Linked DNA regions of Homo sapiens: region 2 is linked to region 1. The links come from fine-mapping of genetic effects on gene expression. A gene starts in region 1. The other region holds a variant in brackets. All regions are shown on one strand. Distances are from middle to middle.

Region 1 (10,641 bases):
AAATTATGTTAGGGAAGTAGAATGAAAATACAAATTCAAATAGGAAAAGGCATAATGTAAAATTTCTGTGAAAATAAATGATGGTGAGTATTCCTTTTCTATGGATTTAGATTTCATTTAGATTGCATTTTAGGTAACATAACCCTTTTTATTTTAAAATATTCACATTTATATTACGCAAAAAATTACATGTTTTGCCACTAAGGTCAAAATATTTTACATGTCAACTTAAAAACTATTTTAGGGGTGTGTCAGCAAAAGTATGAAGACCATTACCTTAACCCTGTGGGCTTATCCACTGAGATTAGGCTGGGATACAGTTACTTCCTTGGGTGAGAAGTCAGCAGTCAATTGTAGTAGTCGTGCTCCCATCTTCATGAGACCACTTCTCCAATACTGATTTCACCTCTTTTGCAGGATGTCCTGGGGCCACTAGTAAACTGTAGAGTCTGTCCCCAAAATGCCCTGAATGGGTCAGAACAATTTATCGATTAAATCAGTTCCAATGCTATTCTGTATCCAAGGCTGTAATTCACAATATGTTCTATCGCCATCTCAAACTATGTCCTGTCAGCTTGCCCAAAGTTATCAGAATTTCTAAAATGTGATCAAATACTTTAATAACTAAGAACCAACAAGATGTTCTCAATTTGATTTTAACCCTCTCCCAGTATTAATTTTCCAGAGAGAAATTAAAAGTTCAGAGATTAAATCACTCTGTCCTTCTAAATTATGGCCCAAAGTAATCAGTACCAACTTCATGTTAAAGTCCAAATCATTAATGGCCAACATTGAACTCTTTTACTCTGTGAATTAAAGTTCAAACAGGCTTTGTCACTCCCTGGAAGTGAACTTAGCTCCAAACCTGAAATTTCCCTTCCCCCGGGGAGCTGATGCTGTTTGGCTTACCCCAAGCCTCCCCTGGCAGGAGCAAGCTCCTTTGAAACTTGTGTGAGGTAGCAGAGGAGAAAGCACACTTTCCATGAGCAGGATGGCTCCCAAGAGAAAGTGGAGAGGAAGAAGGTGGGCTGCCCACGAGCCAAACTTAAACATCGGGAAACTCACTGGTGGCACTCAAACAGAGCATCAAATGATATGTTCGTGGCACTCCAATGTTTCAAGAAAAATGTGATATGGAAAAAAAAAAAAAGTTTTTCCCTAAAATAGGGAAAAATTACAAGAAACAATCTCTCTTATTTAAGAATTATTTATTGAATATCATGGTGCAAACTTCTGAGCTAGGTTCACTGGGAAATGCATAAGTGAGTCAAAGCTGGATGCTGCCTAACAACCAACCACTAGTATTTCTAACTCAATTATTATATATGTCAGTGACTCATATTTTAGATTTTTGTTATAGCACCACCCTATTTCCAGTACCAATTTTTATATTAGTATGCAAAAGTTGATACCAAACAACTCCAAATAGCTAAGTGACTCAGGACAGCAGAGATGTATTTCTTATTCATATACCTAGGTATGTTATTTGGGAGCTGTTTTCCACTTTGTCCTGTCTCCGAGACCCTGGCTGATGGAAGCCCACTCAATTTGAAACATCGTTGGAGTAGTGATTAAAGATGGCCACATTTTCCTGTAACTCTGTGGTTGACAAAAATTTTTGTAATAAAGATGGCCACAAATTCTTTGTCACTCTCCCTCCACCCCTATCAAGTGTTTATTTCCTCTCCCCTTAAAATTGAGCTGGCCCTGTAACTGCTTTTACCAATACAACATGTCATTTCCAGACCTAAGACTTACAAAACCTCGAAGTTTTTGCTTTTATTGCATTTGAGAATCCTAAGCCACCATGCAAGAAAGAAGTCAGGCTACTCTGCTGAAGAAGCCATGTGAATCAGAGAGTCTTTGGAACGGCATGGGTAAATAGAAAAGCTCAGCTACTCTAGCAACCTAGTTGAGCCTCCAAAAACTCCAGCCCCAAACAATACCAGGCTGGAACCACATGAGAGACCCTGAGCAAGATTAGACAACTGCCCATGAGCCTAGTCAACCCACAAAACTGTTACACATAATAAAATGGTGACTGTTTTAAACCATTAAGATTTAAGGTGCTTTGTCATGGGACAATAGATAATTAAAATATTTCATCACTGTTGGCAGGAAGAAACAGCGCAGGATAAATGTCCACAGGCTCTTAAAGCTTTTATTTGGAAATGACACAAGTCACTTCCAATCACATTTCATTGGCCATTCTTGAGGTAAAAGGAGTAGGGAAATCCAAATCTACGTGTGTGGAAAAAGAAATAGAAATATTTGGTGGCTAGTACTAATATCTTCCAGAGATTTACAAGTAAATCAGTAAATAGATGAAGTGTCAGGGGAAAAAAGCTAACAACAGGAGAAAAGAATGTACATGACGATTCTTGTAGATGTCCTCTAGGCAAAGCAGGGATGTAAGAGGAAAAGGAGGGTAGAAAGAAGTCAAAAATAAAAAAAATAAAAAAGCATCCGCAGGGAAAAAGTAGAAATCTTGGGATCTAAAGGACAGTTTCAATAACAGAATAGTCAAGAAGAGCATAAAATAAAAGGCCAAAATGGGTGGTACAGGTAAGGAACACACAGAAATTCAAAGAAGGTAGGTTAATGTGGGCTGATAGAGGCCTCAGGTGGAAGTAGAATTGAAAGAATGGATAGGTCATGGAATTTGTATGGTTAGAAATAAGAAGGGCATGCTCCGTGAGGAAACAGCATGAGTCAAGTCCTAGACTGTGCAATACACATAGCATATATGGGGCAAGGGACTAGGTATTGTAAGGGGAAACGTATCATTTAATAGAGGGTATCCAAGGGATTGTTTGCTGGGGAACGGGAAGGCAGGGAAGCCACTCAGGGACTTATGGAGGCCCTTGAGTGCTTTCTGAGTTGTCCTCTTCAAATTACAGAGCACCCCTGGAGATTGGTGTCTGAGCAAAGGAAATCAGAACACAGTTCTAGTCTCTTCGTGTAGGAATGAAATAGGAAAAGACTGACGGCAAGTCACCAATTGGAAAGTTATTGCAGTACTCAAAGCAAGAGTATCCTATTGGGACAAGAGCTTGTTACTTAGGGTGGAAAATAAGAACTTCCAACTAGTCCAGTTCAAGGGGCTTACAATGAGAATCAAAAAAGCTGGGGTTTTGGGAAGGCTTCAAGTGTGAAGAAGTCGAGACACTATTTTATCAAGGATATAAAGGAAAACTTTTTTACTTCACGTGGCAGCCAATGTTGGTTAGCTACCCAACATTCCCCAGCCCACTTCCTTGACAGCAGAACTTTAATACTGTCCAATTCCTCTCTTCCCTCCAAACCAACTGGAAAAGAAACCTACACACACTAATTCAGCCCCAAGGTAAATCCTGAGGGTCTAAGCTACTGGTTCTCAACCAGTACCACACCTCTGGGGGGTGGGAGGGAAAAACGGTTGATTTACGGTGTCACAATGCCTGAGGTGTGGTACTGACATTTAGCTGGAAGGAACCAGAGATGGTAAATGTCCAGCAATGCTCAACACAGTCCTGAATAAGAATTAAAAAAGCCAGATAAACACTAGGCAATCATGGATGTCCCATGCTCCTTGTCTGTTACTGCTTTAGGGACAGCTAATAGCCCAGTTCTGGTCAATAAGATATAAGGAGTGGCCTGCTTCTGGGGTGCTTTCTTCCTTCCTATCAATGTTGTCTCAACTGTATACAGCTCTTGGGACTGCTACAGCTATCTTCTCCTCAAAACCAGTTTCTTCTTTATCTTCCTATTTCCATCACTGGCACCTCCCATTTTCTGTTACCAAGTCCTAAAGCAATTTTGACTTCTCCTAACCCTTAACCTTAAGGTGACTATTCCTTTAGGTTTGCCTGGGATAAAACTGATATAACTCCTGGTCTCTGGCTATAATTATTAATGCCCTACTTTACTTCCAAAAGTGTTCCATATTGAAGGATAGAGTATATGGTCATTTACTACCAATTGTGTCGCTCTCCCTCAGGTACCTCTAATGCAGGGCTCAGCAATATGGCTTATAAGTTGTTTTTGCACCTCTCCAGAACTAAAAAAAAAAAAATTTACATATTTCAATGATTTTCTTAAAAATCAAAAGAATATTTCATACCTGAAATTATATTAAAAATTCAATGTCCATAGTTTTACTGAAGACAGCTACACTCATTCAAGTATTGTCTATGGCTGCTTTCTCGTTACAAGGTAGAGCTGAGTAGTTAAGGCAGAGACTTAAAATATGATCGGGCCCTTTACAAAAAATGTTTGCCAACCCCTGCTCTAATGTCTCCCCTAGCTCTGAGTCTCCTCACCTCACGCACAAATACCCTAGCCTACTAACTGCTTTCCCACTCTTTCCCCAGCCTCTAATCCTTCAGACACCTGGTTGCTATACAGCCTCTCTACAAGAGTGTCGACCCTGTCACTTGCCTCGTCAATATCCTCAGTGACTCCTACAAAACCGACAGTGAAAGGTTCAAACCTATTCTATGAGACTCAAGACAACAGACAACAAAGGGCAAGAGAGAACACGTCAAACGAGTTCGTCAAACGAGTTGAGTGCGTGAGACTTCAGAGGTCACTTTTTCACACTAGAATTTCAAGGTGTGAGAGGCTAAAAGACGTCCAAGTACATGAAACAGAACCTGCAAATAAGAGTGAATGACGAATAGAAAGACCACCTCAACCTGTCCACTTCCCTACGGCCGCAGAAGTTATGATTCAAGGAATAATGAGACTCTAAATCCTTTAAAATTCTACAAGAGCAGCCTTTGCCAAACCCAGCGGGGAGTGGCTGCTCGGTGCCAGCGCGAGGAGCACGTAGACTGCCGATGCCAGAGAAGCCCGGTGCGGGTTCCGTGCTTTCTCTCCGTTCCAGGAAGACCCCAGCTCGTGGCCAAATCTTCTTGCCGCTTCCCGGTCTGCGCGCCTACGCTGCCGGTTTCCCGACAAAAGCGACGGCGCCCTGGTGAAAAGCAGACGCCCCTCATCGGTTTGCGCCTTGCAGCTCAACTATGCCCCAGCCTCCCACAAGCCACCTGCCCGCGTCCTCCGCCAGGCGTCCAGCCCGGACCTGCCCCCGCGGCCGCCAAGGCGCACGTGAAGCTCCCGGGCGGGGGGAGCGCAAGGAGGCGGGAGTTTGCGGACGCGAACGCAGGCCTAGGAAGGGAAGCGATTCCAGGGCGCACGCGCAGAGCCTGGAGACTGGGCGGGGCGTGCCTCCCGCAGGGGTTACGAACGAAAGGCGAGCGCGTGGCGCTCAGGAGCCCGCGCACGCGCTGTGGTCTCGCCCCGCCCATGAGCGTCCGCGCGGCCGTCGTAGCATCTTTTCTTCAGACCCGCCCGGCTCGTCTACTTAACCTAGCGGAGGCTTGGAGTGAGAGCAGGGAAGTGTGGGGCGAGGTGGGCGGGGCGTTGCACGCGTGCGCGGCCAGCGAAAGAAGGGAGGGGGCGGGAGATCCGAGACAACGTTACCCCGTCAACACCCAATCAGGAGCCGGCCTGACCCCGCCCCCTCTTCTCACGTTATTGGCTGAGAGGCCCCCAGATGGGCGGGGCCGGCCGTGGGGTTGGGGAGGGCAGGGGGCGGGGAGGAGGAGGAAGGCGCTGGCGGGCAGTGATGGCGGCTGGTGATGGGGACGTGAAGCTAGGCACCCTGGGGAGTGGCAGCGAGAGCAGCAACGACGGCGGCAGCGAGAGTCCAGGCGACGCGGGAGCGGCAGCGGAAGGGGGAGGCTGGGCGGCGGCGGCGTTGGCGCTTCTGACGGGGGGCGGGGAAATGCTGCTGAACGTGGCGCTGGTGGCTCTGGTGCTGCTGGGGGCCTACCGGCTGTGGGTGCGCTGGGGGCGGCGGGGTCTGGGGGCCGGGGCCGGGGCGGGCGAGGAGAGCCCCGCCACCTCTCTGCCTCGCATGAAGAAGCGGGACTTCAGCTTGGAGCAGCTGCGCCAGTACGACGGCTCCCGCAACCCGCGCATCCTGCTCGCGGTCAATGGGAAAGTCTTCGACGTGACCAAAGGCAGCAAGTTCTACGGCCCGGGTGAGGAGTTGGAAGGGGAGGGGAAGGACCCCCTGCAGCTGAAGCACAACCCCCTTCGGACAGGGAGGCCTCTGGGCACCGGGTTAGTTTGCCCAGCCTTCTCGTCTCCGGGACCCCCGCGCCTCGGCCGCCGCACCTGGGACGGCCCATCCCGCCCCTACACACACACCGTCCCCCCGCAGCTACGGGCACCTCCAGTTCTTCCCCCGAAACCAGGGTCCCCGGTGGCGCCCCAGAGACCAGCTCTCAGCATTCATCTTTCTTCCATCCCATTTCTCCTCGCAGCCTTTTTTTTTTGTTTCTTTGGCTGGATTTTTCAAAATCGTTTTAGTTGTCACAGGTCAACGCTGGCCCTTAACCTTTTTTGAGTCTCCTGATTCCTGGGATGGATGGGGCACCAGGGAAGGGAGATTTCTGAAGTTGGGACCTAAACTAAAGTTTTGGGCTCTGTAATTCACCGTTTTCTTTTCCTTGCCCCCTTTTTTTTTTTTTTTGCCACTGATCTCCTTTTTTCCCTCGCTGTATTACTCCGTAAGGCCACGTTTAGGGGCATGTAAAGTCCCAACCCTCCAGTCTCTGAAGTCCAGACGTATAAGCAACACCTCGGACTCTCTTTAAACCAGTTTTAGTTCGGAGTTGCTTTCCATGATTAACAAGGTATGTGGGATGAGAACAGACCAGAATGCAGAGCTTATTAAAGACTGGTAAGGATATTCACCTTGAGTTTTGGGGGTGGAGCTCCTATACCCAGCAGGCGTGTCTCTGGTTTCTTTTTTCTTTTTTTTTCTCTTTTCAAGTACACGTTGATAATGACTTGTGTTTTCACTTAGCAGAACTAAGGAGAAAAAACTTAGAAGAGTTGTAGATTTATACCCCCATGTGCCAGTTATGCAAGTTAAAGATTTTTAGAACTTTGTTTTGAGAGAACTTTGTTTTCAGGGAACTTTGTGTAGGGTAGTTGATTTAGACGCCCTTTTTTTACAGTGTGGTTGTAGCATACATTTTGGATTATGTTAATAAACCCCAGACTCATGGAACCTGTTGGTATATCATACAGTTGAGCAACATTGTGCATCCTGGTTGTGCACTGATTAATACTAAGCTTTAAAAAAAAGTGGTGACTACAATAAGAATAAATAATTAAATTAGAGACCTAAAGTGACCTGTTATTGGAGAGAGTACCTCCAAGCCTTAAAGTCATAGGGTTGGCAGTCTGGAAGTAAGCTGGTTTTCTCCTTAATTTAATCTGTAGGTGTATAAGATTTATTGACACTTAAAAATATATACTTCTGATTTCAGTGCTTGATAGCTGGAAGATATTTTAGAAGTGCTTTGGTTTGTAGTTTGTTCATTGGAATAGGGATAAGAAATAGGAGATTTTTGGTGTTGAATTATGTAATTTATTTCTTAGTTGTTTGTACTTCTGTGTATATATACACATTTAATCCAACCAAGTAAATACATAGCTTACAGAGTTTTTGCTTCTGGTTACATAAATGTGAACACAAGGTGTCTGCCTACTTATATCAACTGAAATGGTTAATACATTTTTGTTTACTTAAGCACACGTGGGACAAGAGAACAGGGCCAAAGTACAGTATTTAAACAGGCCAAGCGAAGTAAATTTTTTTTAAATCAAGGATTTAGACAGCATTTTATACCTAGTTCAAGCTTTTCCCCCATTGGTATTAAAATGTGTTAAGTGATTAGAAATCCTGTACAGGTTTAAATTTTTAATATAGACCTTACCCAGCTAAAAGATCAGCTTTTGTACCCTGTCTGAACTGCCACTGAAGAAAACAAAGTATTAGTACAAAGAATCGTATTAGTCCTCACACATTATGCCTTGGCAGTATCTGAAAATAGCTAAGAGAGACAGTCATAGAAACAGTTTGGCAGCCTCCAGTGGCAAACGTTTGTTCTGTGATAGAAATTAAAAATTAAAGCCAGGCGTGGTGGTTCATGCCTGTAATCCCAGTGCTTTGGGAGGCCGAGGCGGGTGGATCACCAGAGGTCAGGAGTTCGAAACCAGCCTGGCCAATATAACAAAACCTCGTCTCTACTAAAAATACAAGAAAATCAGCTAGACGTGGTGGCGGGTGCCTGTAATCCCAGCTACTCGGGAGGCGGAGGCAGGGAGAGTTGCTGGAACCCGGGAGGTGGGGGTTGCAGTGAGCCGAGATTGCGCCATTGCACTCCAGCCTGGGCGACAGAGAGAGACTCGGTATAAAAAAAAATTAAAAATTAAGAGTCATAGGTGGTAGATTGCTTTTTTATGGTATGTGCACTGAGGGAGGCTCTTGAGATTACAATGGAGAAGTCAGTTTTAGATTAGTTTCTGCCAGTTCCTAGGTTCTGTTGAACAGCCTAAGAGTGATATACAGTTAGTATTCTACAGTTGATCAACAACATAACAGATATTTGAATATTTTATTATTGAAAGGAACCTTAAAGAAAGCCAGATCATTTTATGGGCTTAGAATATGTTGATATTGCATATTAATAGAAAATGTAATAAGTAGTACTTTTCAAAAAATCTTAAAGCCAAATTTCTGGCTATAAAACAGATACAAGTTCAGTTTTGCTTTTAATTTTTATTTTCATCCTCATAAATTAAGCAGTTTTGTAGCAGAATAATTCAGAAGCAGTAATTGTTAGTTTCTATGCCTAGCCAATATCTACCCTAATTTCACAATAATGGTTTTAGGATTAAATTTTGTGAGATTTTTCCATAATGCTAAACATGTGTTTATTTTTAGTCATACATTTTTAAAGTTCAGGCTCTTAATTAAATATTGACAGTGTAATTTGGTGGAGTATACACATTTTGGCAAACAGTTGGCATTAACTGTATTTGCCAATATTAAATTTAGTAACAGATCAGGCACTTGGCCAGCAGGTGAGGAAAGTTTGGTCATGTAAAAAACTGAATACAGGAGGAGAAAGAAAACCAGATTCGTTAAGCACCCACAATATCAGATCCATTAATTTTTTTATCTCCATAATTCCTCAGTGAAGTTGGTAAGTATTCCTGCTCTACAGGTGGGGAGTCTGAGGTCTAGGTATTTTAGGTAAATTGGCTTGGATTACATGTATGTCTAATAAATCCAGATGGATATTACCACACAGCTTATCTATACTATTTCTAGTAAACTGCATCCTGTGATAAACTTGTAGAGAATCTTACTGTTGTTTTTCTTTATACTCTTCCCTGGTTCCCATAAATCCAAGGATTTAAAGCCTCAAAAAAAACATGCCTTTCGGCCAGGCACGGTGGCTCACGCGTGTAATCCCAGCACTTTGGGAGGCTGAGGCAAGCGGATCACTTGAGGTCAGGAGTTTGAGACCAGACTGTCCAACATGGTGAAACCCCATCTCTACTAAAAAAAAAAAAATAAAAATAAAAAAATAAAGGCCAGGCACGGTGGCTCATGCCTTAATCCCAGCACTTTGAGAGACCAAGGCGGGCAGATCACCTGAGGTCAGGAGTTCGGGACCAGCCTGGCCAACATGGCCAAACCCTGTTTCTACAAAAATACAAAAAAAAATTAGCTGAGCTTGATGGTGGGTGCCTGTAATCCCAGCTACTGGGGAGGCTGAGGCAAGAGAATCACTTGAACCTAGGAGGTGGAGGTTGCAGTGAGCTGAGATCTCGCCATTGCACTCCAGCCTGGATGACAGAACGAGACTCTGTCTCAAAAAAAAAAAAAAAATGCTTTTATGGCTTTATGTTATACTGCCCAAAATGGTGGCCCCAGGTGGCTAATTAAAAGTAAATTAATTAAAATTAGATATAATTAAAAATTGAGTTCCTTAGTAACACTAGCCACATATAAAGTGCTGAGCCCACCATGGCTACCATTTTGGACAGTGCACTTTGTATATTTTCATATTGTGAGACTGGCGTGCCACCTACTGCACTAACAAGGCACCTCTTAGAGTATTTCTGTCTTCCCAGAGAGTTGTTGAAAACAACACTGATTCTAAAGGTCAGAGGAGGAGAAGGAGGAAACTCCATTTATTGAGCTTAGTATCGCTAATTTTCAAACAGCCCTATGAGATTGCCCAAAGCCACATATCTAGTAGGTGGCAACACTAAAAATTAAATCCAGATTTTCATAGCTTCAATCCTTCCCATTGTATTACAACATAGTCTATTCAGTTTCACATGTTTACAGAATCATAAGTTTTGAAGACTCAAACAGCTAGTATAATTTTTAACAATTTTATTTAATATTACTGCAATGGAACTTTACCAAAACAGTGCTTTTATTTTTTTGGAATGGCAAAAAATTATACACTTGACTTTTTGATAGTTTATTTTGCGTTGTTGAACCTTGCAATACTGCTGCTCCCTTATTCCAGGTGGAGTATTCTTTGACATATACCAAAGCTATATTTTTTCCAACTTACCTTTTAAATTCCACTGAAAGAAAAAAGTCACGTAAGAAGAACCCCATGAGATGCCTAATATTTAGGAGGTTGGGGAAAAGAACACATGTACCTTGAAGTGTTTTTCCTCCATTTTAAACTTTATCTTCAATTTGTTCACTTTTATTTAACACTTTAGTTTGCAGAATTGGAAACTCTGTGTTTGCAGAGTTGCATCATAAAA
Region 2 (10,641 bases), 350 kb after region 1:
GGAACAAAAGGTCATAGTTTTCCTTATTAAATTGTTCTACCACTTATCTATATTTGTTTAAATTTATTTCCTAAAATTTAATAAAAGCCATTAAATAGGAAGATTAGAGATAGAATCTTCCTATGTTGCCCAGACTGGAGTGCAGTGGCTTTTCACAGGTACAGTCATAGTGTGTTACAGCCTCCAACTCCTGGGCTCAAGGGATCCTTCTACTCTAGACTGCTGAGTAGCTGAGATTACAGGCATGGGCCACTTCGCCTGGCTTAGCCTACCACATATGAAAAAAAGTAATCTGGCTGAGTGCGGTGGCTCATGCCACTAATCCCAATATTTTGGGAGGCCAAGGTGGGAGAATTCCTCCCTCCCGCGGCAGGAGGATTGCTTTGAGAGTTGGAGGCGGGAAGTTCAAGACCAGCCTGGGCAACATAGGGAGACCCTGTCTCTACAAAAATAAAAAAATTAGGTGGGCATGGTGGTGCATACCTGTAGTCCTGGCTACTCAAGAGGCTGAGGCAGGAGGATCACTTGGGCCTCAAAGGTCGAGGCTGCACTGAGCCGTGATCGGACCACTGCGCTCCAGCCTGGATGTCAGAGTGAGACCCTGTCTCAAAAAAAAAATAAAAATAAAAATAAACAATAGTGCCTTTTCTAAGCTAACATTTTCTATTTTTCTGAAAGTATTTTATTTTCTGAGTTGTAGTCATTTGGTTCTCCCCTTAAGTTCATCATGATATGTAAACCCTTTTAAAGTGGTAGAATACTGAGTGGTCTATATAGAACGGAAGAATTTATAACAGGTTTATTGAGATAATTGTCTATCATCTTTTGTGTTTTTATTATCTTCTTTATGCATTTGACTCTTGTGCCTAGTTTTTTTAAAAAAAATGATTTACAGCGCTAATGGCTGTTTAACGTATAGGGTAGCATAAGTCTAAAGAATTCTATTTACAAGAATTAAAGAATAGCTTATATTATTTTTCATGATGTTATTGCTATATGCGTATATAGTGTGTGTGATTATCTTCTTACCAAGGTTTATATGAACCAAAAATTTCCAGTCATTCTTAAAAATGAGCCTCCCAAGCATTTTTCCCTTGTGTACAGTCTATTGTTAGCACATTTAATTGTATTGTCAGAAGTTTGAATCCCTTACTATAAGTAATAGTGTTATAAAACTTATACGTTAGAATTGTTTTTATTTTTTGATAGGAAATCTTACATGGTATGACAAATGTATTTAGTTTTAAACTTTTCTTGGATAACAATTCTTAAAGCACTGTACCTTTTTCTGCAGATTGATCCGACAGCTGATACAAGTTTTTTGGGCTGGGTTATTGCTTCATATAGTCTTGGCCAAATGGTAGCTTCACCTATATTTGGTTTATGGTCTAATTATAGACCAAGAAAAGAGCCTCTTATTGTCTCCATCTTGATTTCCGTGGCAGCCAACTGCCTCTATGCATATCTCCACATCCCAGCTTCTCATAATAAATACTACATGCTGGTTGCTCGTGGATTGTTGGGAATTGGAGCAGGTAAGGTTGTATGTATATGTTTGGTTGTGTCATATTCACATTCATTCTGACATTTATGGCTCACTTTTAACTGGTCTCATCCCCTTTTAAACTCATATTTCACAGTTCAACATACATGTTTCTCATTGTAAACAAATATTTTTCTTATCATTTTGCCTTTGCTCATGATGTTCTCATTACCTATAGTTTCTCTTCTGTTCTCATCATTCTTCATCCTTCAAGATTCAGTTTAAACCAGGTGTGGTGGCACGTGCCTATAATACCAGCTACTCAGGAGACTGAGGTAGCAGAATCTCTTGAGCCCAGGAGTTCGAGGCCAGCCTGGGTAACATAGGGAGACCTCCATCTAAAAAAAAAAAAACCCAAAACAAAAATAGATCCAATTCAAGCTCCACATTTTCCACAAAGCCATCTTGGGCTACCCTGCCCCTTGAGAGATTTTTTTCTTCTCTGACATGTCTCTGGCACTTGCTTATAGTATTGTACTGTTTCTATCCTTTCTCACTAACCAGATAATAATTTTTTTTTTTTTTTGAAACGGAGTCTTACTCTGTCACCCAGACTGGAATGCAGTGGCGCAATCTTGGCTCACTGCATCCTCTACCTGCCTGGGTTCAAGCAATTCTCCTGCCTCAGCCTCCCGAGTAGCTGGGATTACAGGCGTCTGCCACTGCACCTGGCTAATTTTTGTATTTTTAGTAGAGACGCAGTTTCACCATCTTGGCCAGGCTGGTCTTGAACTCCTGACCTCGTGATCCACTCGCCTCGGCCTCCCAAAGTGCTGGGATTACAGGCATGAGCCACCATTCCCAACCTAAACTTTTTGCAATTAGAAAGAATTAATGATACTTTAAAAATATCCTATGCCCCCTAACAGAGTCTCTTGAATGTAATGTACTCAATGAAAATTTTCAGTAAAATTGTTAGTGCATTTTTTTCTGTTTCTTATATTACATGTCTATGCATACAGAGTTTGTAATATTGTAATACTTTTCTTTTAAAAACAGTTGTAGTAATCAATGGTATGCCATTCACTCAGTGCTTTTTTAGTACTAAGTAAGTTTGATATTCTTTTTTTTTTTTTTTCACTGTTGCCCAGGCTAGAGTGCAGTGGCGTGATCTTGGCTCATTGCAACCTCAGCATCCTGGGTTCAAGCAGTTCTTCTGCCTCAGCCTCCTGAGTAGTTGGGACTACAGGTGGATAATTTTTGAATTTTTAATAGAGACGGGGTTTCACCGTGTTGGCCAGGCTGGTCTTGAACTCCTGACCTCAAAATGATCCACCTACCTCAACCTCTGAAAGTGCTGGGGTTACAGATGTGAGCCACTGTGCCCGGCTTGGTTTTCTTATGATACCATTTTTTCACTCATTGATATCTTTAACTGTTTTCATATTACCAAAACTAGTATGGTCCATTAATTGATGCATTTGCTTAATAAAAATACCTTACATGCTTTGTGTGATCATAAAGAGGAAGCAGTGACTGTACTGTTGACCAAGATTTCTTCTTCTGTATAAAGTCAAATTGGATTGAATTTTATAAGCTGAATGATACTTTCTTTTACTTTGGATTATTGTGTCTTGTTTTTAAGGAAATGTAGCAGTTGTTAGATCATATACTGCTGGTGCTACTTCCCTTCAGGAAAGAACAAGTTCCATGGCAAACATAAGCATGTGTCAAGCATTAGGTTTTATTCTAGGTCCAGGTAGGTGTTCTTCACATGTCATTACTTGAATTTGAATTGGGAAAACTTTTGAGGCTTAAATATTCAGTGTAACCCAAGTATAAAAACTCATAGCTGAAGGGAAAGGGAGGAAAGCTAATTTTTTTTTTAATCCAGGAATGAGGCTACACTCATTTTATCTTGATGCCAATCCACTAAATTAAGTGCTATTAGTCCCCTTTTATAGTTGAGAGTGCCAGTGCATAGAGAATCTAAGTAAATTGTCCAAGGTCACCCTTTTGCTGAGTGTTAAAAAAATTAGTGAGGCCATGCGTGGTGGTCCACACCTGTAATCTCAGCACTTTGGGGGTCTGTGGAAGGCAGATCACCTGAGGTCAGGAGTTTGAGACCAGCCTGGCCAACATGGTGAAACCCCATCTCTACTAAAAATACAAAAATTAGCCAGGTGTGGTGGCGGGCACCTGTAATCCCAGCTACTTGGGAGGCTGAGGCAGGGGAATCGCTTGAACTCGGAGGCAGAGGTTGCAGTGAGCTGAGATCACATCATTGCACTCCAGCTTGGGCAACAAGCGCGAGACTCTGTCTCAAAAAAAATTAATGAGATTTAGTATTTCCTCAAGGCAAATTAATTTTCTGCTGAGTAAAGAATCAGTCATTTTCATGCCTAGAATAATATTGAAAAACCATATAATTGGTCCATATTTTGAATATTGAAGTTATGAATATTATCAGTTTGAATCCAACTCAGCTTACTTCATCATTAACACCCCATCTCCCACCCCCAGTTTCCATTACGTTCCTCTATTTAGCCAAAAAGAAAAGGCTCAACAGAAGGGAATCTAATTCACTGTTCACCAAAATCTACTATTTCAGTTTTGTACCCTGAAACAAATACAAGCACAAATGTAGAATAATTGAACTTGAATACTATATTGTAAAGTACATGAGGACATGGTTTGAGTCTTTATTTACCAGTCTACCCTCAGTATCTAGCATAATACCTGGTATAGACTTATGTTCTTAGTAAATATTTTTTACCACCTTAAAAGCATTTTAAAGATTATGTCATTTAAAAATTTTGCATTATAGATGAGTAAATGTAAGCCTGAAAAGCTTCGATGACTTTTCCAATAATAAGCCCTCAACAAGCACTAACATTTATTGTGTGCTTACTGTATGCTAGTCACTGTTCTAAGTACGGTAGGTGCAATATTTTAGTCCTCACCCTAGAGTTATATGTGAATTACTATAGAGCCACATATTGAATCTAAATCAGAAGAGCAAACCAGTACTCTTCCAATTGAGTTTTTGCCACAGATCCAAATTAGATTTTGCCACTTCATATTTCTTTAGAGTGCTTTATCCAGCAGTCCAAAAACACTTCTAACTAATGTTTAAAATCACTAAAAAAAACTTCAAATACTAAGGTGGATTATGTATGCTTTTGGATGAAATAATTTTTTTTTTTCATTTTACTTGTATATAATACTATGGTCAAATGATAATAAATATATACACACACACACATATATATATATATATATATATACCATATACAGAATAATATTTAAGATATCTGGTCTAAAATATGATATTTTCATTCTTATAATGAAGCTGATTAAACCTTTATAATTAATTTTTGGAAGAAATTGTATAATTTAAATTGCCTATGGAGATGTTTTGTAAAAAACTGAGAAGTTATGTAAGATACAATTCCTTGTGAATGCATGTAAATCAGTGTTTCACAACCTTTTTTTCATTATTGTCTCCCTAAGGAGCCTTTTTCGGTATTTTTTTCCTACTCTCTTTACCCCATAAAATTTTAGTGCCACAGATGTGTCATATATCTTTTATGTACCATATGTATATCTGTACATACCTGCTTTATACATAAAAAGAGGAAATTTTTTGACCCCCCATCAAGAACCAATTCCATCTGTTGAGAATGCATGATATAGAAGGATGATTCCATAACATTGTTCCCAATTCTGTTGTAAATGTCTTTTTCATTTTTTTATCCTATGCTTCTCATATAATAATTCATCTGTGAAAATTTTATCTTAATAAGTTTTTCAGACTTGTTTTACATTCCTTGGAGAAAAAGGTGTGACATGGGATGTGATTAAACTGCAGATAAACATGTATACAACACCAGTTTTACTTAGCGCCTTCCTGGGAATTTTAAATATTATTCTGATCCTTGCCATACTAAGGTAATTAGATAGAAATGATAAAACTATTTTTGTAGATTGTGAAATTTAATGAGCTTTGTAATTGTTGGAAGATAATTATCCTTATGAAGTGTACGTAGTTTTTTATGTCTATAGTTTGTTTATATTTTTTGGTCAGGTAGTACTAAAGCATGTAATACTGGCAACCAAAAGACAACCTGATAAATGAGAACAGAAAAGGAAGGTCTTTGAAGATTCAAAGTTTTTTTTTTTTTTTTTTTTTTTTTTTTGAGACAAGATCTTACTCTGTTGCTCAGACTGGAGGGCAGTGGCACTATCTCGGCTCAATGCAACCTCCATCTCCCGGATTCAAGGATTCTCATACCTCAGCTTCCCGAGTAGCTGGGGCTACAGGTGCATGCCAACACATCCAGCTAATTTTTGTTTCACCATGTTGGCCAGGCTGATCTTGAACTCCTGACCTCAAAGTGATCTGCCCACCTCGGCCTCCCAAAGTGCTGGGATTACAGGCATGAGGCCATGTGAGGCTGTGCCCGGCCTCAAGGTTTGGTCTTGATTTACTAACTACATGTTGCTAAGTAGGGGAAAGGCATGGAAGTAACATTTTAAATAGATTAATGGATTTGTATCAGTCTTAAATATAAAAGTTACTAGTAATGTATATCTCTTATCTTTTATATATTCGAAAAAATTTTTTAAAATTATGTTTTATTTAGAGTGCTTTATTCAATAGTCTAAAAACATTTATTAC[T/C]AATGTTTATAATCACTGTAAAACTTCAAATACTAAAGTAGATCATGTATGCTTTAGGATGAGTTGGATTTTTTTCATTTTACCTGTTTATGATAATTTGATAAGAATTGTAACTTCTGTCTTAAGTTTATTGGTTATATCTCATTGGTAACAGTTTTATTACTGAAAAACCAATAAAAGAAACTATATTAGAATGTGAAAAAAAATACAATGCCGATAATAAATTTAAACAACTTCTCTATTAAGCATTTTATAGGTACAATATTTGTGTTTTTCTTTTTAAGAGAACATCGTGTGGATGACTCAGGAAGACAGTGTAAAAGTATTAATTTTGAAGAAGGTACTTTTAACCCATTTGGCTGAATTAATATAACATTATCAAAGTGTTTCTAATGATTCTGTTTGTTTGGTATTTACTTCGATTTTGCTTCTGAGGACAACACAGTGGGTGATTGGGGAAGATCTTCAAAGCTGAAAGTGACCTAAATTTATTTATTTATTTATTTATTTATTTATTTATTTATTTATTTTTTTTTTTTTGAGACAGAGTTTCGCTCTGTCGCCCAGGCTGGAGTGCAGTGGTGCGATCTCTGCTCACTGCAAGCTCTGCCTCCGGGGTTCATGCCATCCTCCTGCCTCAGCCTCCTGAGTAGCTGGGACTACAGGCGCATGCCGCCACGCCTGGCTAATTTTTTGTATTTTTAGTAGAGATGGGGTTTCACCATGTTAGCCAGGATGGTCTCGATCTCCTGACCTTGTGATCCACCCGCCTCGGCCTCCCAAAGTGCTGGGATTACAGGCGTGAGCAAATTGATTTTTTTTAAAGAGGCATACCCATATTGGTTATTTGGTGGTCATGATTGACAAGGTTACAAACATTGTAAAAAATCGCTTTGTCTTATTTTCAGAGAGCCAGTATCCTAAAGCCTTTGAGATATTTGCAATGATTTCCATATCTTTACTACCAAATAAATATGTCTATTTAAAGCAGTTCTTTATTATCTTAAGTATGAAAATGGGTATGGTTTTGCCTTTTTATTTTTGTTGTTTTGGTATACTTTAGAAATATACATTTTCATCTTTTAGATCTTCTCTGATTCATATAAGCCAGAGAACCCAGTAAGTAGCTATATTTTACCAAAAAAAAACCTGTTATTTAGGTACTAATTATATCCTCCTTGCGGAAAGAATGCAAGGACTGATCCTGGCCCTCAGTAGTTCATAAAGTTGTGGAAAAGACATAGTATTATTTTACTATTTTACCAGGTACTTTCATAGCTCTTTTATTTAATTTTCACAAAAGAAATAGTGGAAGATAAATGTAGTAGAGCAGAGTGGTGAGGAGCTACAGTAAGTTTTTGAACTAGGAGAAGTTTGACATTGATTCCATGCAGAGGCTAATCCAGATTGGTTATATCTCACTGGTAATATCTCATTGGTAACAATTTCATTACTGAAAAGCCAGTAAAAGAAACTGTATCAAATGTGAAAAAAATACAATGCCAGTAACAAATTTAAACAATTTCTTTATTAAGCTTTTCATAGGTACAATATTTGTGTTTTTCTTTTTAAGAGAACATTGTGTGGATGACTCAGGAAGACAGTGTAAAAGTATTAATTTTGACTAGGCCTGAAGTAGGGCAGTGACTGAGAATGGAGAAGGGATAAGTAGGAGTTGTTGAAAGAGGAATCAAGATAGAGATTTGGATAGAGAATATTAAGGATTAGAGAAAGCCAACATTGCTGCCAGGTTTTGATTCTAGATCACCTGGAAGAATGAGAGAGAACAAGAATTTAGGAAGGGAGGTTAGATGAAAAGAGAAGATGATTTCAATTTGGATCAAGCTGAATATGCTGTTACTCTAGAACAACTAAAAAATCCCACAGGCATTTGTAATTTTGACAGTAGAAATAAAAGCTAGAGATAAAAATTTATGAGTCACCCAGTGAAACACACTATGGCAGCAGAAAGGGAGTGAGAGAAAGGATGGCATGATGATTCAAGTGTGGCAAAAGATTGTTGAATCTGAGGAATGAATATGTGAGAATATGTTTGAAAACTTTCAAAATAAAACACAAAGAATGAGAGGTGAAGTGCCAGCAGTGCGTATAAACTCCTTTTTTCAAAGGTAAAAAATAGGATGCTAACTTCAAGGAGCTATCAGGTAAAGTGACGGAGGAAGTTAAGAGGGTGAGGTAGAGGTATGACAAAGGGAAGATATGTAAAAATCAGTATTTCAGAACTTGGAAGGGGATAATGATATACATCAGTGCTTCATTTACTTTAATGTGCTTAGAAATCACCTGGGAACCTTGTTAAGATGCAAATTCTGATTCATTAGGCTTAGGGTGATACTTAATAGGGTTGCCTGTAAAACACAGGATGTTGCTTCTCAGAATAGGGGAGTTAATAAAGAAATATAAAAATATATAATTTATAATAAAAAATAAAACACAGAATGCCCAATTAAATTTTAATAATGTTTTAATATAAATATGTCCCACCCAGTTAAATTTGGATTTCAATAAACAACAAATAACGTTGGTTTTTTTTTCTTTAATAGAGACAGGATCTTGCCATATTGTCCAGGCTGGCCTTAAACTCCTGGACTCAAGTGATCTGCCTCCCTGGGCCTCCCAAAGTGCTAGGATTACAGGTGTGAGCCACTGCACCTGGAAACAAATAACTTTTAGTATTAATACAATCCAGCTGGGCACAGTGGCTCATGCCTGTAATCCCAGCACTTTGGGAGGCCAAAGCAGGTGGATCACCTGAGGTCAGGAGTTCAAGACCACCCTTGGCCAACATGGTGAAACCCTGTCTCTGCTAAAAATATAAATATTAGCTGGGTGTGATGGCAGGCGCCTGTAATCCCAGCTACTCATGAGGCTGAGGCAGGAGAATCGCTTGAACCTGGGAGGCAGAAGTTGCAGTGAGCCGATATCACGCCACGTACTCCAGCCTGGGTGACAGAGTGAGGCTCTGTCTCAAAAAGAAAAAAAAAAAGTATAAATACAATCCAAATACTTCATGGAACATTCTTATACTTAACTTTCAAATATGGCACAGAACATATTTATATTAACACTTATTGTTTATCTGAAATTTAAATTTAACTGGGTCTCCTGTATATTTACTAAATCTGGCAACCCTAGTGAGATGCTGAGCATCTACATTTACAACAAACTACCATGTGATGTGATGCTTCTGGTCTACAAATCACACTTTGTGCAGCAAAGATTGAGAGCTATGCTGCCCAATATAGTAGCCATTAGCCACATGTGGCTATTTAAATAAAGTAAATTTAAGAAATTATTTTCTGTCATACTAGCCACATTTCAAGTGCTCAATAATGGGTATATGTGGCTAGTGGCCACTGTATTAGCATAGATAAATAACATTTCCGTCATGTCACAGTTCTGTTGGGCAGCACTGTTCTAAAGTACAAATGGGAATGAGTTTAGAGAAGATGTAGTGTTTTCTTTTATGAGATTTCTAGTTACTTCAAAATAATTTTTATAAAATAAAATTTTTAAATTTCAATAAATGTTTGCATAAAATATGTCTGGTAAAAACTTCCATAATTGTTTTAATTTAAAGCTATTCAAATTTAAAGAGGTTATTATGAGACAGGATTATAATTTCTAATTGCATAGAATTTGAATCCATATACTAATGTAGTCTTTTAAAAAATGTGTAATTAGGATATCTAGTCAATCCCCATAGTCTAGGATGCAACATTTCTGAGATACCCCACTGAAGCCAACACTGAGTAGAAGCTATAGGAAACTAACCACATATTATGAAGCAAACTCCAGTCTGACTTGGGGCAATATTGATACTGACTTGAAGGAGTAAAGACTGACTTCTAGGTGGTGATTAAGAATCAGAGAGGTCTATCCAAAATAGTACAAGAGCCACAACCATCAGGGCCTACCCCTGGCAAAGGTTCTGGACAAAGGTGGCCAGTTCTCTTTGTGTGATTACAAAGGAAGGTCATAAGGCTATGTTGAGCATCCAAGGTGCTTAATTCCCTTTAAGTATAGCAGACTATTTCCAAATCTACTTATTGTTGGAGGAGGAACTCCTTCTCAAGAATCCTGAGATAGAAAAGCAGGCATTATTATGAAAAAAATCATAGAAACTTACTGCATCTTAGGAAAGCCCCCCCACCCACCCACTAACAACAACTGACACTACACACAATTTAAGATAGCATAAATAAACATATTTTTGTAATATTTTATGTATTAATACCTGGCATAGGCTGGGCGTGGTGGCTCACACCTGTAATCCCAGCACTTTGGGAGGCCGAGGCGGGCAGATCACGAGGTCAAGAGATTGAGACTATCCTGGCCAACATGGTGAAACCCCATCTCTACTAAAAATACAAAAATAGCTGTAGTCCCAGCTACTCGGGAGACTGAGACAGGAGAATCGCTTGAACCCGGGAGTTGGGGGTTGCATTGAGCAGAG

Evidence for each region. PIP is the estimated chance that this variant, and not a neighbour inherited with it, causes the effect.
Region 2: its variant is the best candidate, but not a certain one, in a credible set for the expression of PGRMC2 in whole blood (INTERVAL, PIP 0.55).

What each region holds. Positions count from the first base shown.
Region 1 is chr4:128,282,758-128,293,398 of GRCh38, reverse strand. It overlaps PGRMC2 (progesterone receptor membrane component 2), which reads left to right and starts at 5,586. Exons shown (of 3, transcript NM_006320.6): 1 at 5,586-6,026. The coding sequence starts at 5,609. RefSeq lists silencers at 4,291-4,585, 4,957-5,146, 5,467-5,646, 5,657-5,706, 5,887-5,946.
Region 2 is chr4:127,934,646-127,945,286 of GRCh38, reverse strand. MFSD8 (major facilitator superfamily domain containing 8) reads left to right here. Exons shown (of 12, transcript NM_001371596.2): 4 at 1,295-1,535; 5 at 3,129-3,242; 6 at 5,290-5,434; 7 at 6,449-6,504. Among named protein-coding and RNA genes, the nearest start is that of MFSD8, 25 kb to the left of the region's middle. The variant T/C (reference allele first, on the strand shown) is at 6,165.